Regions from separate parts of the Homo sapiens genome. Here region 2 is linked to region 1. A link means that fine-mapping ties the variant in region 1 to the expression of a gene that starts in the linked region. Tissue or cell type: cerebellar hemisphere. Region 1 holds a variant in brackets; the other region holds the start of a gene. All regions are shown on one strand. Distances are between the middles of the regions. Region 1 overlaps RETREG2 (reticulophagy regulator family member 2). Region 2 holds the start of ABCB6 (ATP binding cassette subfamily B member 6 (LAN blood group)).

What was found. PIP is the estimated chance that this variant, and not a neighbour inherited with it, causes the effect. A credible set is the group of variants that fine-mapping cannot tell apart.
Region 2: it holds the start of ABCB6, and the variant in region 1 is the best candidate, but not a certain one, in a credible set for the expression of ABCB6 in cerebellar hemisphere (GTEx, PIP 0.82).

Annotation. Positions count from the first base shown.
Region 1 is chr2:219,183,154-219,185,653 of GRCh38, forward strand. RETREG2 (reticulophagy regulator family member 2) reads left to right here. Exons shown (of 9, transcript NM_024293.6): 9 at 1-2,322. Among named protein-coding and RNA genes, the nearest start is that of RETREG2, 6.1 kb to the left of the region's middle. The variant G/T (reference allele first, on the strand shown) is at 1,253.
Region 2 is chr2:219,217,831-219,220,330 of GRCh38, forward strand. It overlaps ABCB6 (ATP binding cassette subfamily B member 6 (LAN blood group)), which reads right to left and starts at 1,128. Exons shown (of 19, transcript NM_005689.4): 1 at 295-1,128. The coding sequence starts at 843. It overlaps ATG9A (autophagy related 9A), which reads right to left. Exons shown (of 16, transcript NM_001077198.3): 16 at 1,550-2,500. RefSeq lists an enhancer at 345-1,212 and a silencer at 458-567.

The DNA.
Region 1 (2,500 bases):
CAAGCTTTAGGGAGGCTCCTGGTCTGGGAAGTAAAGAGTAAACCTGGGGCAGTGGGTCAGGCCAGTAGTTACACTCTTAGGTCACTGTAGTCTGTGTAACCTTCACTGCATCCTTGCCCCATTCAGCCCGGCCTTTCATGATGCAGGAGAGCAGGGATCCCGCAGTACATGGCGCCAGCACTGGAGTTGGTGAGCATGTGCTCTCTCTTGAGATTAGGAGCTTCCTTACTGCTCCTCTGGGTGATCCAAGTGTAGTGGGACCCCCTACTAGGGTCAGGAAGTGGACACTAACATCTGTGCAGGTGTTGACTTGAAAAATAAAGTGTTGATTGGCTAGAACTGCTGCCTCCCTGACTGTGAGCTGCCTTCCACACCCTGCACTGCACTGTGTTCTCTCCTCACCCTTAACCTGCTTCACTCCAGTCTGTTCTGGCTGTTTATTACCTTGTTGCAAAACAGGGCCGAAGCAAGGATTACCTTGACAACCCTAGCTTCTCCTTAGCCATCTTCCTTGACAGTGTGATCTGTTTAGTGAGATTTAGCATGTGTGAATAAAGTATATGCAGGAGGAAATTGCTTTGTCTTCCCAATCGGTAGAAATTCGGGACCATAAAAATTGTGTTTTACCATGTGGCCTACAACCTTAACACTGCTTTCTTAAGAAGTCTTCACCCATCTACATGCTAACAACTCACTCAGCCTGGATTTATCTTTACTGGGGAAGCCAAACAAGCAATAGAGGACCTTTACCTGTGTTAGAAATGAGTTGGAGCCAAGGAACACTGAAGAAATAGTATCTTAACAGTTACTGAGTCCATTGTATGTGCTTGGCTCTGCTCTGAGTGATTTATATGTATTAAGATTTTTCCTCACAGGTCAGATATATACTGTTACTAACTTCATTTTATAGACAGGTTAAGCTTCCTGAAGGCCACAGGTCCCAGTAAATTGTGGAGCCAGAACCCAAACCCAAGAAGTTTTGGCTTCAGCAAATGCATCAGACAGCCCCTGTCCATTAATAGGGCACAGGTAGGAAGATGCACAAGGATGTGGGAACTATAGAGAACCAATCTGATGCCTTGGCTTAACAAAGAGTGGACATGGCAAGCCTTCCTCTTTGGGGAAGAAAAGCCCAGAACTGAGCAGATGGCCTCCTTTATGAGTTCATGTCCTCCGCCTTCAGCTGGAGGTACCATATGGCGATGCTACCTGTCTTTCTGCTGGAGGTACCATATGGTAATGCTGCCTGGCT[G/T]TCTGCTGGAGGTACCATATGGTAATGCTGCCTGTCTTTCTGAGGTTGACTTTTATGCCATGTCTTTCCTAAGTGTGTAAGAATTTTTCTGTTTGCTTCACATTTGACTGAGAATCATTCTAGGGTTTGATTGAGCCCCTGTCCTGTGCCACTAAAGGAACTCGAACTTTTCATCACTTAGAGATTTCAGAGGGGAATGGAAAAACAGTTCTAATCAATAAGCAAGCAATTCAAGAAAAATAGAATTAATCAGGCAATGACTGCAACATGTCCTATCTTTAATCTATTTTCTTATTAAGCTTGGACATTGACAATAGAACCAGAAGCTTGTAGCTGGATCAAAATATTCTCCATAGGCCTGGAGTTTCATGAGGGTCTATTCTTTTGTTGTTGTTGTTTTGGTTTTTTGTTTTTTGTGGGTTTTTTTTTTTTTTTTTTTGAGACGGAGTCTTGTTCTGTTGCCCAGGCTGGAGTGCAATGGTGCAGTCTTGGTTCACTGCAACCTCTGCCTCCCAGGTTCAAACAATTCTCCTGCCTCAGCCGTCCAAGTAGCTGGGATTACAGGTGCATGCCACGATGCCTGGCTATTTTTTGTATTTTTAGTAGAGGTGGGGTTTCACCATGTTGGCCAGGCTGGTCTCGAACTCCTGACCTCAGGTGATTCACCCACCTCGGCCTCCCAAAGTGCTGGGATTACAGGTGTGAGCCACGGCGCCCAGCCTCATGAGGGTCTATTCTTTACATTCACCATGGTCTGATGGTTGCTACATGTTTGTCTATGATTTTTTTTTTCTATTATCAGGTGTCTTGGCCGGTTCATGCCCCACGATGAAAGGGCCAGAGGTTTTCATATGAGTAAAAGAAAAAAGCAGAAATGTGAAACCTACAATTAGGCTAAACAAAAATCAACTGGAAAAGTACAGGCTGAGGGGAGAAGAGTTGGCTACATGTTTATGTTAGGGGAGGAGGGAGTACATTTTAGCTATGTATTCAAACAGCTAATAGTTTAATGTTGCTGCTTATAAACTTAATTTTAGGCTGCATTAATAAAAGTGTAGTCTCCAAAACAAGAAATGTGATAATTCTAGTGTCCTGTGCACGAATATCCTAATACTTCCAGAGGATGGCTTGCTAGGCTTGTGGGCAAATTGTAGTATGTCCAGGAGATGACTGCTAGAAATGAAGGCTGAAAATCATCATAGGACAAACTGTTGGAGGAACTGGGAATCTCTAATCCAAGAAGAGAGC
Region 2 (2,500 bases), 35 kb after region 1:
GAGTATCATTGAGGATAAAATTTCATTGTATTACTACTTATAATAGGGCCGGGGACTGGTGTCATGAACACATTCAGCACTTACAGGCTTAAAAAAAAAAAAAAAAGCAAAACCACAGTGACTCAGCAAAGACACACCCCACCAGCTGGCTATCAGCTCCCGGCAGGACTCAGCCCCTCCCTTCTCCCTTTGCTTAGAGGCATCCTAAAGCCTGGAAGCAGTGTGACTGGACATGCAGTGCTTTCTCCCAAGCCCGGCCAGCAGAGGCTTCCCCCTTCCCACAGAGTCCCTCACCTGCTGGCCCAAGTCTGCCCTTGCCCACCACCACTGTGGGCTGTTCCAAGACACCAGGGCCAAGTTCTCAGCTGCAAACGCCACAGTCCAGAGGAGCAGGAGACCAGGGCTGTGCCTGAACTTGATCCAGATGCCCATTGCCAGACGCTGCCGTGCCTGGCTCCGCTCCACGACAAGCAGCCACAGGCCACAGGCGCCGGCCAGACTCTCCAGCACGGAGGCCAGAAGTAGATAGCTTGGCAGTGGGGCCCCCCGGGCAGTGCCCACCCGGCCAGCCAGGCCGGCCAGGGGCAGCGCCGCCTGAAGTGTGGCCAGAAGCAGCTGCAGCACGTAGGGAGAGATGCGAGGGCCGGCCCCCCAAGACAGCGAATCAGCACCAGCGGGCCGCTCCCGGCGTCTGCAGGGAAGAGCCAGCACCAAGGCCAGAGTCCCCAGAGCCATCCGCGTCGAGGGCACGAGCGTGAAGAAGAAGCAGGGACTCAGGCCATCCTGCATCCAGGCCGGACCCACGGGCCCTTCGGCCTCGCAGTAGTTGCCCACAGTCACCATGGCAATGCGTGGACGCCGGCCGAGGCTGCGGGCACTGCGGGACCGGAGGCCGGGACTGGTCACTCGGAGAGGGGCGCGGACATCCGGGTGCCTTGGCTCACGTAGCCGCTGGGCGCCAAGCTGCGGGGGTCCCGGGAAGGGACGCACGTGGACCAGGCCTCACCGCCCACTCCCCTAGCGCACGCGCCGCCGCCACGCACTCACGCAGGGCACGTACGCCGTCTCAGCACGGCCCCGCTGGCTCTGGGCCCGGGACCCTCCTGCCAACTGCAGGCCCACGGGAATGCTCGGTGTTGGACTCGCACCGCGCTCCACGGCTGTAGCCCCGCCCACAGCCCCTACCCACGGCTCCCATTGGCCAAATGTCTCCGAGGGGGGAGCGGGGGGAATGGTGCAGGCAACGAATGCAAATTAGAGAAGCAGAGCCGGCTTGGTCACGTGCCCAGGGCGGGAAATCTGACGACCAGGCCGAGCTGGAAACCTCCACGGAATCGTGGCTCGGGGCTGGAAACAGACCTCACGGAATCCTGGCTCGGGGCAGGACACAGACCTCCACGGAACTGTGGGTCGGAAGCTGCCCTTCCGCCAGCCGCCTTGCTCAGCGTATCTGAGCGACGGCCTAAACATACTTTCTTCTAGACCCCGGCAGAGTCCCCATCCCATTTCTCTTGTTCCCAGGATTCTAGCCGCGCGAGACAACAAGAAGTCTGGTCAAACTCCCTTTTTATTAAGGGTTATCAAGCTGTACACGGTCCCTACCCTGCTCCGCTCCGAGTTCGGGCAGCGCAATTCACCACTCTCCCAAAGCCGGACCACAGCTGGGTGAGGGGTGGGACAGAGAGTAGGAGCAGTCCCAGCATGCAGTGCAGCAGCCCAAAGCCTCGGGCGAGGCATCGCCCTTCATCCCCCTTCAGGGCACAGCGAGATGCGGGCCAGAGCTCTTTTGCTGGGACGCACACAGCCAAGGTCACCCTCCAGCCCGGTCTGTCCCATGTGCAGGTGATGGGGGGTACGATAAGCAGCAATGAGGGCCCAGGAAGACCTCAGTCTCCTGGGGGCCCATCCTAAAAGATGGCAAGGGCAGCAAAGTATTTCCATCCTGCTCCTACAATTTAGAAACCTTCTTTTTTAGTGTCAAAATATAGCGTTGAGGGGAGCTGGACGCTAGGGTCTTCACCCTAACGCAAAGCAAAAGCCGAACGGAACGGGAGCAAGCGAACAGAACAGGAGCAAGCAGCACACACAGGCCAGTGATGTGCAAGAAGCGGAGAGAGGTGAGCCGGCTGCAGCACTGGGCGAGAACTGCGGGTGAGGTAAGGGCCACAGCCTGACCTGCTCATCTATTGAGGGGGCTAGGGAAGGTTGCAGGGGTTGAGGGTCCAGGCCCAACCTCCCCACTCCACAGTTGGCACAGGTTCTCCCTGCTTGGCAGCTTCTATCGTGGGCAGCCCTCTGGGGACTTGCAGGGGTAGGTGTAAAGGTGGCAGTACTGGGGCTGGGCTGGGGGCCAGTTTCTAGCACCACACTCTGAGCCAAGGGGGTCCTGGGGATGAGGCTAGAGTCCCGTGTGCCCTCGGTTCCTAGGCCCCAAATTCCTCTCCTGGGGCTGTGGCAAGCCCAGTGTTGGCACCTCCCTTGGCCAGGCACAGACACACAA